Homo sapiens: one gene and its partners. The protein of the gene in region 3 purifies or fractionates together with the protein of the main gene of each other region. This does not show direct contact. Each region holds a gene or a part of one and is shown on either strand. Other genes may lie near its edges. The genes, in order: PIP5K1A, PARN, DHX37, RBM19, LIN28B and NOP14.

Region 1 (3,500 bases), on a different chromosome or scaffold from region 3:
CCGTCTCTACTAAAAATACAAAAATTAGCTGGGCGTGGTGGTGTGCGCCTGTAATCCCAGATACTCAGGAGGCTGAGGCAGGGGAATCGCTTGAAAGCGGGAAGTGGAGCTTGCAGTGACCCAAGATTGCACCACTGCACTCCAGCCTAGGCGACAGAGTGAGACTCCATCTCCAAAAAAAAAAAAAAAAGAAAAGAAAACCAAGCCACATTTCAGAGAAAAGCTAAATTTTGTTTCTTAGCTGGTGTAAATTTTTCCTAACGCTCTTCTAGGAAACAGTCAGAAGTGCAAGGATGTCCCTAGAAACAAAAGCTTGAAAGCAATTTGATCTACCAGTCCTGGGGTCACCTCAGCTAATAGCCAATTAAAAGCAGTATATCAAAGAATGAGCCAGCTGGGCCCGGTGGCTCACACCTGTAATCCCAGCACTTTGGGAGGCCAAGGCAGGTGGATCAGCTGAAGTTAGGAGTTCGAGAACAGCCTGACCCAACATGGAGAAACCCCATTTCTACTAAAAATACAAAAATTAGCCAGGCGTGGTGGCATGTGCCTGTAATCCCAGCTACTAGGGAAGCAGGGGAATCACTTGAACTCAGGAGGAGGAGGATGCAGTGAGCCAAGATCGCACCACTGCACTCCAGACTGGGCAGCAAGAGCGAAACTCTGTCTCAAAAAAAAAAAAAAGAAGGAGCAACATATTTATTAAGATTAATCTTGATGGCCAGGTGTGGTGCCTCATGCCCGTAATCATCCCAGCACTTTGGGAGGCCGATGCAGGCAGATCACGAGGTCAGGAGTTCAAGACCAGCCTGGCCAGCATGGTGAAACCCTGACTCTGCTAAAAATACAAAAATTAGCCAGGCGTGGTGGCGTGCGCCTGTAATCCCAGCTACTTGGGAGGCTGAGGAAGCAGAATCACTTGAACCTGGAAGACAGAGGTCACAGTGAGCCGAGATCACGCCACTGCACTCCAGCCTGAGGGACAGAGCGAGACTCCATCTCAAAAAAAAAAAAAAAGATTAATCTTGGTAACATACAGCCTTTATGCAACATCTTTACCTCAGTTTCCTAATTTGGAAAATGAGGGAGTTAAATTAAAATAACTCTACATTTCCCTCTAGTCAACTTTTGCTTCTAATCCTACAAACAAGTTTCATGGTTCTCAGACCTCAAATATGTATCCCTTGGCACAAAAACGTTCTTTGAAATTAAGAAAAAAATCCAAGTCCTTCCTTAAAAGACTTGGGTTTCCTGAATAAGCTACCCATGGCCAAGAGGCACTTGAAATTTTTGGCAGATAGCCACCTTCCAATTTTATTTCCAAATCTGGTTCTATCTTGAAACAGCAATGAATTCTGCTGGATTAAAATGAACATATTTCAGACCAGGCGCGGTGGCTCACGCCTGTAATCCCAGCACTTTGGGAGGCCAAGGCGGGCAGATCACTTGAGGTCAGGAGTTCAAGATCAGCCTGGCCAACATGGTGAAACCTCATCTCTACTAAAAATACAAAAATTAGCTAGGCATGTTGGTGTGTACCTGTAATCCCAGCTACTAGGGAGGCTAAGACAGGAGAATCGCTTGAACCCAGCAGGCGAAGGTTGCAGTGAGGGTCGCCTGAGGTCAGAAGTTCGAGACCAGCCTGGCGAACATGGCGAAACCCCGTCTCTACTAAAAATACAAAAATAGCCGGGAAGGTGGCTCACGCCTATAATCCCAGCACTTTGGGAGGCTGAGGTGGGCAGATCACCTGAGGTCAGGGGTTAGAGACCAGCCTGGCCAGCATGGTGAAACCCTGTCTCTACTGAAAGTACAAAAATTAGCCGGATGTGGTGGCACGTGCCTGTAGTCCCAGCTTCTTGGGAGGCTGAGGCTGGTGAATCGCTTCAACCCGGGAGGTGGAGGTTGCAGAGAGCTGAGATCCCACCACTGCACTCCAGCCTGGGCAAAAGAGTGAAACTCCGCCTCAAAAAACAAAACAAAACAAAACAAAAAAAGTATTAATATACTCTAATTAAATATCCTAAAAACAAACAAACAAGAACAAAAAACCCTCTTCTCATTCCCTCTCGCCAACTTCCTTTGCTCACCTCCCCTTTGCCCACCCCCAACCAATATCTCTAATCTTTTTGGACAGCTTATTCTGGATTACTTCCATATTGCTCAGTTAAGTATACAAGGTAAATAATAAGAATATGCTGAACTCCCTACAACAGACCTACCTTCCTCTCTTTTTGCCAATGTCTTCCTCAGATTCCAACAAGAGAGATTTTCCAGGAATTAGATATTTGTAAATTAATACATACTGAATACAACCATTACAAATAAACAGACTGAAATTTCACAGGAGAATAAAGAAAAATGGAGACAGTTTAAAAAGATGGAGGGGTTGAGGGAAAAAAGTTCACTTCAAATAGAAAACAGTAAAAGAATAAAAGCTTGTAGGAGATATGAACAAAACAGGATAAACATATGTCGAAATTAAATTCTCTGTTTAGATGGGAAAGGGCAGAGAAGTGAGGTGCAATAGGGGAAACGGGCTTCTTAGGGTTTCCTCTAGGAAACACCATCGGTGTTTCATTCAGTCTCTCTGGGCTGGGTATGGAGCACAGAAAAACAAAGATTCCCTCTCTACCTGGCCATCAGGAAAGAGTATATTCTTGAAGTACACTTTTGTCCTTGATCAAGGAAACCCAGTAAAAAGAAGAAAGAAAAATAAACTGATAAGTTTTCTTGTTCCCTTTTCTTTTTTTTGAGACGGAGTCTTGCTCTGTTGCCCTGGCTGGAGTGCAGTAGTGCACTCTAAGCTCACTGCAACCTCCGCCTCCTGGGTTCAAGTGATTCTCTTGACTCAGCCTCCCTAGCAGCTGGGATTACACGAGCACGCCACCACGTCTGACTAATTTTTGTATTTTTTGTAGAGACAGGGTTTCGCCAGGCTGGTCTGGAACTCCTGACCTCAGGTGATCCACCTGCCTTGGCCTCCCAAAGTGCTGGCATTACAGGCGTGAGTCACCATGCCCGGCTCTTGTTCCCTTCTTTACGTCAAGTAAGAATGCTCCAAAATTCTAGGAGAGAGGCCGGGCAGTAGCTCACGCCTGTAATCTCAGAACTTTGGGAAGCCAAGGCAGGAGGATCGCTTGAGGCCAGGAGTTCAAGGCCAGCCTGGCCAACATGGGGAAACCCCGCCTCTACTAAAAATACAAAAATTATCTGGGCGTGGTGGCGCACGCCTGTGATCCTAGTGACCTAGGAGGCTGAGGCAGGAGAATCGCTTGAACCTGGGAGGCAAGGGCTGCAGTGAGCCAAGATCGCACCACTGCACTACACTGGTCTGTAGCCTGGGCGACAGAGCAAGACTCTGTCTCAAAAAAATAATAAATAACATTCTAGGAGAGAACAATTTAAAGGATAAAATTACCACCTTCCCTCTCCCCAGTTTGCTAGCTGGCCTGGTATTATCTCTGTTGTTCACTTCACAGGCTATAGTTTCCACTTTA
Region 2 (3,500 bases), on a different chromosome or scaffold from region 3:
CTGATTGTAGATTTTGGCCCTGCAGAAGAATTTATAGTTTACAAACCTGAGGAGTAGGAGTAGATGGTAGCAGTTTGGGAATGGTAGACCGGCAGCAGTATTTGAACCACGTAAAACCATGTGAGAGTATTTGACTCACCCTTGAGATTGATGGAGCCCAGGCTCTCTGAGGATCCAGGTGAATCTAGAACTTGTACTCCAAGTGTGGACTCTCCTGCAGTTGCTCAATGAAGTCGCTGATGATGGGACTGAGTACCTACTCCAACGTAGCAGGGATGCTGGTGCTGGGTTCAAAATGGCCAATGTGTTTAATTACTTTGTCTGTGTTTAAGTATTTTCTGTATTAAACATTTTATGTTTTAATTATGTTTTTTATGTATGAAGTATTTTAAGTAGCTTACATATTTGAGTAAAAGACATTTTAAACATTGATATACATTTTGTTTACCTTGTTAAAAATTCTTTTTAGACTCTTGGATACTAAATTGATGGCCAGCACACAACCTTTTAAGGTATTATTCATTTGCTACTTTATAAAGCGACTGCATATTACTGAGTGAAATGAATGCCAGAACAATATAGCCTTCTGGCAAAAGGTTTGGAGGTATTTAATGCATCTGTAAAGATCTTTATTCATTTGGTTATACTTTGTATATTATAAAAATTAAACTAGCTGCTTCTCTTTCACATTGAAAAAAACGAAGACTTCTGTGTTTCTTTAAAGAACACAAGGAGACAGTACTAGATGCTGTCTTTTTTTTGGGGGGGTCAGTGAATCTCTTTAATATATTGTTCTGAGATGATGAAATCTCATAATTCTTTGCTTCGTGGTTTGCAGGATATCATTAACAACACATCCCTTGCGGAATTGGAAAAGCGGTTAAAAGAGACACCTTTCAACCCTCCTAAAGTTGGTAAGAATATTAAACCGGAAACCCTCCAAACTCTTTGTAATAATTATTGATGTATATTGTAGAAGAAAAGCAGAATGGCTCTGGAGACCGTATTGTTCATTTATAGATTTTGGCTGAATTCACTTGCACGTACCGTGTGTTGAATTATTGTTTTTTGAATAAAGATGGTCTTTTAATTCTACATATATTTTATGTTAATGGAGTTGGGTAGCCATTCATTGAGAATTTTAGCAATTAAAGCTTCAAGGCTTCTATTTTCTAATAATATGGAATTCTCCTAAAACTTGATGTGCCCTTTTATTCTTTCATACATTATTGAAGCAGAGACAAAGAGCTAGTGATTAATCACCAGGGGTAGAGTAAAAAATATATTTTCCATCTCAGAAAAGCCCGAGAACTGGATTTACAGGTGAGATTAAGGCAAGTCCCCACCCTGCCTCCTTTTCAGCTGGTTTAGAGAGTAGAAACAGCAGCACTGAGGAAAACCAGAAGTAGGGAGATGAGATGGAGGTGTTTTGCCACCTCGGGCCACCACCAAGGTATGTGGAGAGCCTACCAGGTGCTACTTCCTTGGTCCCTGTTAACCTGATTGTGCTGCTGATACGGTGATTAGCGAGCCATTAGTTGTAGCCTGAAAACTTCTAAAGACATGGATAATAGGACTAATGGTTTAGAAATTGATAATGCAAAGTATTAAAGCAGCCAAGATTACAGTTATTTGCCCCTTTCTGGGTAATAGTCCAAGAAAGGAATTAAGAAAAGTGGTGGTGGGGCCATTGGGGGAGAAAACGTGGACCTTTTCTATAACAATATAATGGAAATAATTGATTTTGGAAAGAATGTGTCTCAGTTGATGATGGAGTGGAAGATATTACTTAGGTGGCTACCATGTTAAAAGGCTTTTTTTTAAAGGCATCAAGTCTAATATTTAATATGGAGTTAAAGAATTCTTGCTTAAAGAGCATTGTATTGACATAAAAACAGTTACAGCCTTTTCATTGTTAATTTCCATTTATGCTTTTGATTCTGTGTTATAGTAACCTTCCTGACATTCATTTCCAGAATGGTTCTAGGATATAATTATTTATGAGTTATAGTTTTATGTTATTATTTCCATATAAAATAGTGGTATCTGGTAGAGAATTCAGTCTAAAGCAGGTCATTCCTCTTATAGTTTATCTGGTCACATCTGTATTTATCAATGTCACAAAAGAACCATATTGTATATAAAGCGGTCTTTGCTGTAAAGTGGTTCCATGATCCAAGGCCAGCATTATAGCAAGTTCGATTTATTTTTGGAGTTGGTTGTGCTGTCACCTTTCGATCTCTAAGCTTGGGAACATAGTAGAGGACAGTAGTGAGTTGGAGCTGTTGATAGTGAATTGCAGTCTTCTCTTTTTTTGGGGGAGGGTTGCCTCAGGTATTGATAGATAACAGTTTTTGAGCACTTACTATGTACCAAGCACTAGGTAAGAGTTTAACTTATATTATCTTATCTGATCCTAACAATAACCTTTTGAAGAAGGTTTGATTATCATCTCTGTTTTACAAAACTGGAACCTTAGGGATGAAGTGACTTGCCCAAGGTCATACCGCAAATAAGTGGTGGAGCAGAGATTCGAACTCAGTGTGACTCCAGAGCCCATGCTCTTAATCTTTACTCTGGATCATCTATTGTGGCCTGATGTGACCATCTTGTATAAGGGAAGAATATCCTTTTCATGGCCTTAGAAAGCAAGCAGAAGAGGAATCATTGTCCTAGAGTGAGTTATGGATGATCATAAATAGCACCCACCAGTGTGGGACGAGAAAGCCCACGGCTGAGTCCTTTGTAATCTAACTGAGGCATTTCTGTATCCTAGACCAAAGCCCTCCTTTTCAGTGACTCTGTTATCTTGTATTTTAAGGTCTTATATAGAGAGAATTAAGGAATAGATAGCTTTTTTCTGCCTATTTAGGGTATTTCTCTAGCATATGCTAATGCAATTTTGATTGGTAGGGCAATGTGCTTACTAGTCTTTGTTTTGAGGAAAACTTTTTCCTTTTTTTTCTTAGAAAGTGCCGAAGGTTTTCCAAGTTATGACACAGCCTCTGAACAACTCCACGAGGCAGGCTACGATGCCTACATCACAGGGCTGTGCTTCATCTCCATGGCCAATTACCTAGGTACGCATTACATGTCTTTCAGTCAAACACGCAGTGATCTAGGGTGGATCTTACCTGTCTCCTGGCTTAGGCTGCTGTAATAAATTACTGTCGAGTGTGGGGCTTAAACAACAGACATTTATTTCTCATGTTCAGGAGGCTGGAAAGTCCAAGACCCAGTTGCCAGCAGACCTAGTATCTGGTGAGAGCCCACTTCCTGGTTTGCAGATGGCTGCCTTCTCCTGTCCTTACGTGGTGGAGAGCAGAGAGAGCAGAAGCTGTGCCGCCTCTTTTTTAAGAGTCAGGGTCTCACTCTGTCACCCAGGCTGGAAGTACAGTGGTTCAATCATAGCTTACTGCAACGCTGAACTCCTGGGCTCAGCCTCCCAAGTAGCTGGGACTACTGGTGTGCATCACTGTGCCTGGCTAACTTTTTAATTT
Region 3 (2,403 bases):
ACAAGAACAAAACTCTGTCTCAAACAAACAAGCAAACAAACAAAACTCAAAAGCAAAAAAACATAATTCTCTAGACAGGCCTTCTAAAAAATAAATAATAATAATAAAATAAAAGAGAAGGCAAAGGGTCCCCTTCCCCTAATCATCCCGGGACAGAAGGCTCTAGATCCCACCTCCTCCCATCCACCCTGGCTGCCTCTGGTCCACATTCCTTGCCCACCAAGGCTGCTCTGTGCATGCAACTTGTCTCATCTAGAACCTTCCTCCAGATTTGTGCCCAGCTGCAGCCCTGGCTCCTTTGAATCTGCCCAGTGAGGCTCTCCCCGACCAGCCCAGTCGCACTCCACCCCCTGCCCACCGAGGCCTCACTCATGTCCTGCTCTGTCCCTCTGGGGCCGAGCAACGCTGCTGTGGGACAGAGATCGTGTCTGTATCCCAGCCCCGAGAACATGCCTGGGACAGGGCCACACTGGAAAACGTGAGCTGAGTGACTGACACGGCTCCTGACAGCCCAGCAGCGGGTGCTGTGCCCCACGCCCCATCTCGAGTCCCTGGCACCTGCCTGCACCTTCAGGCCTGCCTCCAGTGCCCCAAGCCCCTGCACCATAGGCCCCACCAGCCCCAGGAAGGGGGAGGTGTCTGTGGGTCTGGACCACAGGCAGGAGGAGAGCAGAAGCAGGAGGCAGAGGGCAAGGGTGAGCCCTGAAGCAGAGGTGGTGGGCGGGATGGGGCAGGGGTCTGCTTAGCTGGGAGGAAGTCCCCAGGGCCAGGAGGGCAGGATGCCTCCCACTGACACCTGGCGGCTCTGTGGGAGCTGCCCAGTGTCTCCCCTATCCCATATTCATGTCCACCCAGAACATCAGCGTGTGACCTTATATGGAAAGAGGGTCACTGCAAATGTCATGAGTTAAGGAGAGGTCATCCTGGAGTAGGGTGGGCCCTGAATACAATGACTGGTGTCCTTATAAGGAGAACACAGGGAGGGAGACTAAAGACACACAGAGAGATGGCCACGTGAAGATGGAGGCAGAGACTGGAGTGATGTGGCCACAAGCCCAGGAGGCCGACAGAGGCAAGACGGACCCTCCCCGAGAGCCGCTGCACAGACCGTGGCTCTGCAGAGCCTTCAGACCTGAGCACAGACTTCTGATGTTTTAAGCCTCCCTGTGTGTGGTGCTTTGTCCTGGCAGCCCCGGGGAGGTCATTCAGGCCTCGGACCCCTCCTGCCCACTGCGAGGCTCCCACCGAAGGCAGTACCTGGCCCACGTCTTCAGCATGGTGCCGGGGCTGGACAGCAGACAGCTCCGGTATGAGGCCAGCTTGCGGAAGACCTGATGAGAGACCACAGGAAGGGGTGAGGCCCGGGCTGCTGCTGCCCACGGTACCCGAGATGAGGGTCTGGAGCCGCTGTGCCACCTACCTGCCCTTCCAGCAGGAACCGGGCAAAGTGCTTGTAGCGGTCAATCCCCTCTGGAAAATCCACCTCGATGGCGGGGAGCGGCCAGCCCACGCGATCTAGAAGGTGGGAGCCAGTGAGACAGGGACCCTCCTGCAGCTGCCCTCCCGAGTCCCATCCCTGCCCCACCCGAGACACACACGTCCGGGGGCAGGGGACAGGACCGTGTGTCCGAGAAGCCCACGGCTGCAGGAGGCTCAGGTTGCCCAGGACACTGCCCCAACTCACAGAACACGCTGGCCCGGTGACACAGCACCCGCCCCCGCTCGGGGCAGTATGTAGGGGCTGGTTCCTCCAGGGGCTTGTCAAACTGGCAGTAAGAGGGCAGCAGGGCCGGGATCCACTGGACCTCCACGCTAGAGACGCCTGGGGGCCGGGGGAGGAAGCTGGGGTTACAGCGGCACCCTCCGTGGGAGGGGCTGCCATGCCTCTGCCCCAGGGTCCCAGCCACACCCCCATTAGCGTCACCATCGGGGGACAAGGGGCTGTCCGCAGGCCTCGGCACCTTTCATGTACATCTTAGTGGTCTCCACGATTTCCTGGTAGACCACAAACTCGGGGAGCTCTTTGAAAAGGACGGAGCTGGGGTGGATGAAGACAGGGTCGTCGAGGAGAGGGGTCTGCAGAGAATGGAGAGTGATGTGGTCAGGGAAGAACCCATGCCCAGGGGCTCCGCATACTTTCAACCCAGGAGAAGAATCTGATTATCCACTCCAGCCGCAAAAGTGGGAGAGTGCTCCATCTGCCGGGAAATGCGGCCCATCCACACGCTGGAGTCTGATCCAGCCGTGAAAAGGAAGGAAGTGCCGGGTGCAATGGCTCACGCCTGTAATCCCAACACTCTGGGAGGCCGAGGAGGGTGGATCATCTGAGGTCAAGAGTTCGAGACCAGCCTGGCTGGTTTCACCATGTTGGTGAAACCCCATTTCTACTAAAAATACAAAAAA
Region 4 (3,500 bases), about 11 Mb from region 3:
ACGTGGTCAAACACTTGACTCTTGGTGGCGTTGTACTTCTGTGCGATGGCATCGGCCACGGCATTCGGCCCCATGAATAGTGTGTTCCAGTTGTGAGAGCTAAGAGGCAGAGGCAGAACAGGGAGATCAGACCGCAGCTGGATGAGGGGAACTCGTTCTCAGACACGAATCCTGTAAGAAATGGGCTCCTAGGCCTGCCTATCTACATGCCCCCAATTTCCCTATCATGGGCTACGTATACAGGGCCTGAAGACAACAAGACGGATGATGACAGGAACCATCCCTAACAGTGCTTCATCTGTGTCAGGGACTAAGAACTTCACATACATTCACTCATTTAAACCTTACAGCACCATAAAAGTAAGGCACTACTATTATTCTCCCATTTTACAGATGAGAAAACTGAAGCTCGGTAAGGTATGAACTAAACCCATCAGGAGTCAGAAGACCCAGGTGGCTTAGAAAGGGCAGGGTGAGGGTGGCAGAGGGTTGGGGTTGGAGCTCAGTGGTTTCAGGGGCACTGAGGACCTGGCACTGTTGGCTTTGTCCTGGGCCTCCTTCTTCTTCTTGTAGGACGACGATCCCAGGGCACTGGCATCCTCGCTGGCTTCCTTCTTGATGGTAGATGGTAACACGTGGAGCATCCTGCCCTGGATGGGAATGACGGGAAGGGAGTAAACAGAAGCCTTGCCTGTAAGCCCTGCTTCCTGCCGAAGGATGTTGGCTTCTGCCACGAGTAAGCTGGACCCAGCACTGAAACCCTGACCAGAGGGTGGGAGGGAGGTCAGGTAGAACGTGGCCACTCTCTTCCCACCTGACACAGGATCCTGATGTCGTGAGGGGGCCACCTGACACAGCTACACACACAAAACTTCGATCAGTGTATAACCCCGCACCCGCAGCCCTCTCCCCGCCTCTCAAGCCTGCATCGCATCCTGTCCCTGCACCAGTGAGTAAGAATGTGAGGTCCATGCCGGTGGGGCCAGGTCTGGCCTGATGGCAACAAGGGGATCAAGAAATCATGAATAAATCAATGAATGAATGAGAAAAGGAAAAAGGGTGATGATGAGGCAGCCTGGGGCTTGAGGATGTATGCTAAGTATATTACTTGGTAACACTGGGAAAAGAGAAGTTTCTTTTATTCCACTGTGGCCATTTTAATAGGTCCCTGTCAAAATTCTTTTCTTCTTACTCCTCTTCTAAGGTGGTATCTATAGAGATGGAGAGCAAATTCATCCATTCAAGGAGTATTTTTTCAGTGCCTGCTAAGTGCCAGACAGAGGTGTAGGTGCCACAGATCAGTGACCAGAACAGATCAGACCGTGCCCTCACACGACTTCTTACTCTCCAGTGGCTTGAGTGAGGCAGTGACTTAGCATGCCATTGCACATTTTCTTAGGCCCACAAAGTGGACGCCCGTGTCCACACACATACACACACACACACACCAGCCTTTCCCGACCATGTGAGCCCCACAGCCTCCTGGCCAGCCCAGGACGGGGCCTCACCTGGAATACCTGCCCGTCCACCTCCGAGTAGGCCTTCACAGCGTGCTCAGGGAACATGAAGGTGATGAATGCAAAACCCTTGGGTTTCTTGGTCAGGCTGTCGATGGGGTAGTGGAGCTCAGACAGGGGACCTGAGGACAGGAGAAGTGTCGGTCTCTGGTAGGCCGCAGCCACTTGGCCCCAGGGAAGAATGTGGTGAGCACCAGCTGTGAGCCAACCTCACAGGTCATGGGTGTCATTTCCCAGTCCCCTACGTGTGTCTATCCTAACAGCAACAATACCTGGGCTGGAGCCCAGCACCACCACCTATTACACATGAAGCTTGCCTTGAGCAAATCACTAAGCCTCCCCATGCCTCAGTCTTTTCATCTGTAAAACAGCACAACAGTACCTAGCTCATGGGCTAAATGCGTTCATGCGTGCATAGTGCACTAAACAGTGCCTGCTAGAGTTAGTGCCAAAGAAGTGTCTTCCATGATGATATTAGCATCATGCTCAAATTAAAGCACACCCTTTCTGCATTGGTTTCAACTCTGAATGCCAGGGTGTGACCGCGTCCCCTCTCTGGGTCTTTCCTTCCCAAATGGACATTTGCAATATATCGACAAATGCTTCTCCCCCTCAGCCCACCCATGAGGTGTAAGCCGGGATGCCAGCCTGTGTGAAGGATATGGTGAGCAGACTGGTGAATGGAACACACAGTTCCACTGGGGCAGGCCCCAGGCTTGGAGGTCAGGTCAATTTTCCTGATGGCATGCTCCACTCAGGGCATCCTTACCCTGACAACGGGGCCCACATCAGGTGTTCAACCTACATCTCCAATCCTCCACAACCTACAGCTGGCCTCTGAATAGACATGGGGAGACACTGCGGGGATCTCAAAGGTATCAAGACCTCCCCTCATCCTGAACCCTCCCTTCCTGCCCTTCAACAATGGTAACTCCACAAACAAACACAGCCTGTTGTGACCAAGCTGGACTACAGGCCCTCAAGCCCATGGCCTGAGAAATAACAGCAACAACAACACTAACCTTGACACTATCAAATCTATTTGGTGCTCAGCTTGGATAAGAAGACTTTACATAATTAAGAGTTCAGATACGGAGGAACGCCGTGTAGGTATATTCATCAGGTGAAACCTGTACAGTTACTCAATTCCAATACCGAGTGGCATGACTTTGGACAGCAAGGGAGTATCTCAAAAAAGTCATCCGAATTGCTTCAATTCTGAATTTGGAGAAGTTAGAGAGTTCAGACAGCAAAGGATGCCAGTGATGCTATTAATACCTTTTACTTCCTGCCCTGCGAATCCCTGCATTCATCATGTCACTGAATCCTCACAGCAGCTCAGGGGTACTTGGTCCCATTTTACAGATGAGAAAACTGAGGCAAGAGATGTGGAGTCGTGTGCACACTGGGACTTGAACCCAGGACGTCAGAGTGAGAGCCCGGCTCCCATAGCCGCTGGGCTATCCACGGCCCGGAGGCCACACCCCTACCATATTTGGAGAAGAGCTTCTCCAGATCCTCCTCGGTGCTGGTGTAGGGCAGGTTCCGTACAAAGAGCCTTCCGGATTCGGCCAGGTCCTCCTCCTCTTCGTTCTCCCCGAGTATCCGGCCTTGCCAGGATTTGGTGGTATTCTTTGGTGCACCCTTGGTGGTGGGGACGTTCTTTTCCCTGAACACCTCGATGTAGCGCCCACCTGCAATGAAGAGGAGTCAGGGCTCCAGGGGGAGGCCTAGAACTTGCCAGCAACTCCTTGCTGGTGACTCCAAACTCTTCTCTGCTGCCTTCCAAAAAACACAATCAAGGTGGCAGATGACAGCACCCAACACCTGCCCTGTCACCTGAGGCGGCAGCATAAGCCAAGCCAACACCAGGCCTGAACCCAAATCTCACTCACCCTGCCAGTTCAGCTTCAGCCCTGGAGGGAGCCTGCCTGAGTTATCCCAGACCACGGTGATGCATTCTCTAAACTCCGGGCTGTATTC
Region 5 (2,363 bases), on a different chromosome or scaffold from region 3:
TATGCTGTTCCAGCCTTACAGGTGGCTGATAATTCTCTGGTACAGAACCTTTTTATCTGTATTATAAATAGCAATTCACAACTGCATGTTTCTGACAAACACTTGTGAATAATGAAGCATCTCGTTTTAGTTAGCAAAGTCTCCAAACATTTCCTTAAAATAATCATGTATTTAGTTTAAAGAATTATGGGCACTGTTCAACTTAAGCAAAACAGAACACGGAAGCAGTCTTAGAAGCACCACTTTGCCCAGAGGTGGAGGTTGGAAGGGGTAGCAGGGAGAGGGGTTGGTGTATGCAGGTATTCATGCTAGGCAAAGAGTTTAAAAGACGCCAATGTCCTTCATTTACTGTCTGTGCTGCCCTGAAGCCAAGCGTATTGCAGCATTATAGCCCCAGGCACATAACTAACTAGCACTGGCTTGCCAAGGAATGAACATGCAATGCCATTACTAGCTATTGAGGGAAAAGGGTCTGTGTGAAGCATCACTTTGCAGGGATTACTAATGGTGGGGCAGCAGGTCTGTGAATTAAGTTATCTCTTGACCTCACCCTCATGTCAACACAAATGTAATTCCTAAACAAGATGCATTGCCAGTCTCTTAGCCCTGTAAGCTGATCTTTTGCTACATGGCAGACTATAATGAAAACATTTTTATACTTGGGTTTCTAGTCTTCACTAGAAGGCCTTGGATGTATTTTTGCAGTTGAAAGATTTAGAAAGATTTTTACCTGCTTATAACTTGGAAGTTTAGAGTGCAATGTAAGAAAAAAGATCAAGAAATGTCATGTTATTAGCATCAGTCCACCTCCAATATTGCCGATACTTTTTTTATTCTGGCTCAGTTTTATTTTGCACCAGTGCGGCCCCAAGTTACTGCTGGTTGTATTTAGTTTGTGAATAGGAGCCCATAAGTGTTAATAGACTTTGTAACATTCACTATAAGATGAATTATACAGGACATGGGAAATCTCATTAAGTCTTAAAGTTAATTTAAATTAATTTATCTGTTTTCTCTAAGAAATGTTTATCATAAAATATATATGTGTATTTCCCCTTTGGTTATAAAATTTGGGAAAGTATGTACAAGTGCAGCTGCACTGACTTTAATTTTCTAGATGTCTTAATGAGATTTATTTGTTTTAGAGAAGAACATCTTGTTAAAAGCATCAAACTCTGTCTTACATAGCTGTCAACAGCCTCTTTAAGATGTGGTGGTTGTATGATCTGTGTCTTAATTGTTCAGTTAGAGTGAGAAGTTGACCTATGATTCATTTTTAAATTTTATATTTGGAACAAAGCTGCAAGTTATGGTAAAGTACTGTACTGTGAGAAGTATTATGATATTTAATGCATCTGTGGCTTAACACTTGTGAGAGTTACCAGCTTGAAAATGATGGTGTTGACTACCTCTTGAATCACATCTATCAACCACTGGCACCTACCACCAAGCTGGCTTCAATTAGTATGTGTTGCTTTTTGGTATTAACAACTAACCGTACTAGAGACCAAAGTGAACCCTGATTTTTATATGTCTTTAATAATGGTGTTTTATCTAGTGTTTTTAAATTATCCTGTGTAGTATTTAGATTACCTCATTGTCCATTTTGACTCATGTTGTTTACAAGTGAAAATAAAAACACTTGAACTGTATGTTTTTAAAAGACAAAAAAGGGGTAGATGTTTGGAATGCGTTTCACTCGCATGCAGTCATCTGGAGGGACTGAAGCACTGTTTGCCTTTCTGTACACTCTGGGTTTTATATTCTCATTTCATGCCTAATGTCTTATTCTGTCAATTATGGATATGTTGAGGTTTAAAAAAATTACTTGATTAAAAATAAAACATATAACGTTGGCATTTATGATGGGTTTTGGAGATTTTTTATGATGTGTGTTCTTACTAAGTTAAGTGAAAGGATAAAAGGCCATTTAGGCAGTGTTTTACATCAGTTGGAGCATAAGTTAAGTGGTATTAACATATCCTCAGTGGTGAGTATTAACATGGAACTTACTCCAACAATACAGATGCTGAATAAATGTAGTCTAAGTGAAGGAAGAAGGAAAGGTGGGAGCTGCCATCACTCAGAATTGTCCAGCAGGGATTGTGCAAGCTTGTGAATAAAGACACATACTTCATGTAGTCAGAAGAGTGGTCTGAAGCAAAATATTCAAAGCCTATTGAAGAAATCATTTTAGAATTTTTCTACAAGTTTTTTCTAATAAAGAATTTGAAAAGGGCAAATTTTATCAGTACCAAATATCTAAAATACGAATGTAGATTTATCAAACCATGAATGCAGTATTGATGTACTGTAACAAACGATTTGGTAAAACTATTGAGTTCTTTAAATTGGCCAGTTCC
Region 6 (3,500 bases), on a different chromosome or scaffold from region 3:
CTTACCACATCCAACCCTGGCAATGCCGCCCGGCCTTTGGTCTCAATCATTTCTTCCATCTCATGCATCGCATCTCGGAGAACAAATTTGATAGCGTCACTTGCAGATTCAGGAAACATCTGGCAAAGATGATATAAGTGCCTGTTAAGCAGAAATGTAAAGTCAGGAGAGAATGACTTTAGATAAGAAACACAGAAAAGCCCTGCAAGCCACTTTCCTATGCAGTCACCTGTTGACTGAGCAAGTAAGAACTGGATGAATCCGCTTTTTCTAACAGCATTCTTAAGAGTCTACACTCACTTCTGCCATTTCCTAAAAACTCGGCCATAACATTATGGACTGGAGGTGGTGGGAGAAACAGCTCGATTTGTGGTACAGACGTTGTTGGGGGCACCACTCTGTGTGGCAGCTGCAGCTGACAGCTCCAAGGCACTTTCCATATTAACTCATTTATTCCTCACGACAGGTACTTCTTTGATAGTGCCTCCATGCATGCAGAAGATGACGTGGAGAGCTCCGCGCGGCACAGGGCAGGAAGCTGGTGTGCACTCTCATGGATCCGAAGCCAACACACGCCTCTCAACTGAGGACTCTGCCCCTCTGGCATTCTTCCAGCCACCAGCCCTGGGGGCCAGGAGCCACTGAGTGGGTCACACAGCCTTAGAGGGCAACGAGGGCAGGAGCTCGCCCTGGCGGTCCCCATGCAGACAAGAGGTACACACTCCCTGGCATGCAAAGCCACCCAACTGGGTTTCACTGAAGGGTGAGGGGCGGGGTGTCTACCGTGCTTTCCAAATACCGCTCAGTCACCCAGAGCTTGAAACTTACAATGAGCCACCCCATCCCAGCCACAAATCTAAAGGGGTTCACTTGTTTCAAAATCAACTTGTTTGTGGTTAAAAGTCAGTCCCAGCTCTACAGTGGCTGGAGCGGCACGTGTGAGAAGCCGGCTTGCGCTGTGAGGCTCACAAGCCCTGGGTGACCACCTGCCCACTTGGCATGCTGACACCATCATTCCACCTACCTTAGTAACTCTGGAATGTATTTTTATGACTCTAAATGGGAGAAAAATTGTTCTGCTTAACCCCACATCCCAGATGACACACCATTTTTACTTACACAACCAACTTATCAATGACTGTGAGGTCTGGTGGGTCATCTGTAGCCAAATCGCCAACGTATTCCAAAAGAAAGCCAAACAGTTTCTGCAGGAACATGAATTGGGAAATAAAGCTCAGTGCTCAGCACCAAGAACAAAGCCACAGGCACACAGCTTCTGGATCACGTACATTCTGGTGACAACCAGGTGGGGCAGGGGAGCCCAGGGTGACAGACACGAGCAGCCTTCTAAAATGTAAGCAAATACACTGCTAGAACTTGCTAAGCACTAGAAGGTGTAGGGGGGAGAAAGCTAAGGGCAAGGCGCATCCTTCTACAGAACAGCTGACAACACACCACTAGGAAAGCACGACGAGGAACACGGGCAGCACGGCGTCCTCCTCACAGGCAATATCCACCATTCACTGAAAGAGGCACGATCACAGCCACCTATCTGCCACAGCAAAGTCTGGCTCTGCCACACGCTGGCTATGTGAACCCTAGTGTCCTCCCCTGTGAGATGAAGGTGAAGGTCCCCATGCCTGCCTCTGGCTGGGTCTGGCACGAGGCCTAGAGAGGGGCCAAAGCCAAGGGAGGCCTCTGCCGGTGCCATACCAAGTACTCCCAGCCATCATCATAGGTAACCATGTGACGGGCTGGCCCCATCTGGCCTGAGGCACACATGGCCGTTGCACAACTTCACACAATTCTGGCATTCATATACGGGGCTATGCTGACACTCCCAGCGCTCCACACACACTCAATCCACGTACTTCTAATTTTGCTTTGTTTCCTTCTGCGAGACTCGGGTGGTTGCACTTCTGAATTCTCTCCACCACCAAAAGCTGCTCTTCCATCGATCTTCCTAACAACAGAGATCTCAGTTCCTCATAGGATTCAGGGGCTATCAAAAACACAAAACATACTGCACATTTAACATTTATATATATGTATATATATTTATTTTTGAGATGGAGTCTCGCTCTGTTGCCCAGGCTGGAGTGCAGTGGTGCAATCTCAGCTCACTGAAACTTCCGCCTCCTGGGTTCAAGAGATTCTCCTGCCCCAGCCTGCTGAGTAGCTGGGATTACAGGCACTCGCCACCATGCCCGGCTAATTTTTGTATTTTCAGTAGAGACAGGGCTTCACCGTGTTGGCCAGGCTGGTCTTGAGCTCCTGACCTCAGGTGATCCGCCTGCCTAGGCCTCCCAAAGTGCTGGGATTACAGGCATGAGCCACCGCACCTGGCCCACATTTCACATTTAAAATGAGAATTACTTACATGTCTGCTGACAGAGAGGTAATTTTATATAACTATTCTACTTCACGATCACAACAAACCCACCAGCGTTTGCCCTGGTACACCTGGAGGGGTCTCAGCCATCCTGACCTGGGCTGTCAGGTGCGATCACGCACCTGGGAACAGGCTAATAAGGAAATGCCCTCCCACCTTTCCTTGATTAGGAATTTGCTAAAACACCCACAGTTTCAGAGCATCTTGGTGGCAGGGTGCTGGGTTTAGTGCCCAGACTGCTTCAGAAGGACCTGGAAGGAGCCACTGTGAGCCAAGCAGTGTCAGCTCAGGAGACTCTTGCCACCAGAGGGCACTTCACAGAGGCCAGCTTCACCACTAGCTTCTCCTCTGGAAGCGTCTGGCAGGCACAGAATAATTCGGCATTGCTTACTAGAACCTGACCATTTTTCTTTTCTTTGTTTTGAGACAGGGTCTTGCTCTGTCACCCAGGCTAGAGTGCAGTGGTGTAATCTCGGCTCACTGCAACCTCCGCCTCCCAGGCTCAAGTGATCCTCCCACCTCAGCCTCCTGACCAGCTAGGAACACAGGCACAAGCTATTGCACCAGGCTTATTTTTTATATTTTTGGTAGAGACGAGGTTTCGCAATGTTGCCCAGGCTGGTCTCAAACTCCAAGGCTCAAGTGACCCACCCACCTTGGCCTCCCAAAGTGTTGGGATTATAGGCATCAGCCACGCACCTGGCCTGGACAATTTTTCTCCACATACTAGACAAAACAACACTGTATATTCCATCTAAAATGTTACGTGGCCAAACAGGAGGCCCAGGTGGGAACATGGAAGCCTTCTCGCAGATGCTCACCCACCTCCCCAGCCCTGCCCCTCTGGTCCACCACAAGAGGCTGACCATATACTAAAAGGGAGGTGAAGGTACCACTAGAGAGAGGCGCATCTGGCCCATCGGGGGCCGGCCTACAGAACCACAGTCACAAACTAAGATGACCACTCACTCTAAGACCTGGATCAGCAGACACAGGGGTGTGTCCAGGCACTCCCAAGGGCATCCTTGGTCCCCATTCCACAAATGCAACCCCTGGGAGGGAGACGAACACACACAGCTATGGCCAGGTCATAAAGGTTATCCCAGAA

What was found.
Region 1: the proteins of DHX37 (region 3) and PIP5K1A purify together in Homo sapiens (co-immunoprecipitation; one large-scale study listed by IntAct). This does not show direct contact.
Region 2: the proteins of DHX37 (region 3) and PARN purify together in Homo sapiens (affinity purification with mass spectrometry; one large-scale study listed by BioGRID and IntAct). This does not show direct contact.
Region 4: the proteins of DHX37 (region 3) and RBM19 fractionate together in Homo sapiens (co-fractionation; one large-scale study listed by BioGRID). This does not show direct contact.
Region 5: the proteins of DHX37 (region 3) and LIN28B purify together in Homo sapiens (co-immunoprecipitation; one large-scale study listed by IntAct). This does not show direct contact.
Region 6: the proteins of DHX37 (region 3) and NOP14 purify together in Homo sapiens (affinity purification with mass spectrometry; one large-scale study listed by BioGRID and IntAct). This does not show direct contact.

Annotation. Positions count from the first base shown.
Region 1 is NC_000001.11:151,205,052-151,208,551, reverse strand, and holds part of PIP5K1A (phosphatidylinositol 4-phosphate 5-kinase type-1 alpha), read right to left. Parts: exon of another isoform or gene 2,223-3,500; intron 1-2,222. UniProt on the Homo sapiens protein: Catalyzes the phosphorylation of phosphatidylinositol 4-phosphate (PtdIns(4)P/PI4P) to form phosphatidylinositol 4,5-bisphosphate (PtdIns(4,5)P2/PIP2), a lipid second messenger that regulates several cellular processes such as signal transduction, vesicle trafficking, actin cytoskeleton dynamics, cell adhesion, and cell motility.
Region 2 is NC_000016.10:14,581,761-14,585,260, reverse strand, and holds part of PARN (poly(A)-specific ribonuclease PARN), read left to right. Parts: intron 1-469; coding exon 470-512; intron 513-838; coding exon 839-914; intron 915-2,969; coding exon 2,970-3,080; intron 3,081-3,500. UniProt on the Homo sapiens protein: 3'-exoribonuclease that has a preference for poly(A) tails of mRNAs, thereby efficiently degrading poly(A) tails.
Region 3 is NC_000012.12:124,948,729-124,951,131, forward strand, and holds part of DHX37 (probable ATP-dependent RNA helicase DHX37), read right to left. Parts: intron 2,077-2,403; coding exon 1,962-2,076; coding exon of another isoform or gene 1,925-1,961; intron 1,823-1,924; coding exon 1,685-1,822; intron 1,516-1,684; coding exon 1,421-1,515; intron 1,332-1,420; coding exon 1,258-1,331; intron 1-1,257. UniProt on the Homo sapiens protein: ATP-binding RNA helicase that plays a role in maturation of the small ribosomal subunit in ribosome biogenesis. Required for the release of the U3 snoRNP from pre-ribosomal particles.
Region 4 is NC_000012.12:113,945,826-113,949,325, forward strand, and holds part of RBM19 (probable RNA-binding protein 19), read right to left. Parts: intron 3,212-3,500; coding exon 3,008-3,211; intron 1,640-3,007; coding exon 1,509-1,639; intron 651-1,508; coding exon 529-650; intron 100-528; coding exon 3-99; intron 1-2. UniProt on the Homo sapiens protein: Plays a role in embryo pre-implantation development.
Region 5 is NC_000006.12:105,081,470-105,083,832, forward strand, and holds the end of LIN28B (protein lin-28 homolog B), read left to right. Parts: 3' UTR 1-1,863; downstream 1,864-2,363. UniProt on the Homo sapiens protein: Suppressor of microRNA (miRNA) biogenesis, including that of let-7 and possibly of miR107, miR-143 and miR-200c.
Region 6 is NC_000004.12:2,946,407-2,949,906, forward strand, and holds part of NOP14 (nucleolar protein 14), read right to left. Parts: intron 2,003-3,500; coding exon 1,872-2,002; intron 1,206-1,871; coding exon 1,120-1,205; intron 715-1,119; exon of another isoform or gene 467-714; intron 142-466; coding exon 6-141; intron 1-5. UniProt on the Homo sapiens protein: Involved in nucleolar processing of pre-18S ribosomal RNA. Has a role in the nuclear export of 40S pre-ribosomal subunit to the cytoplasm.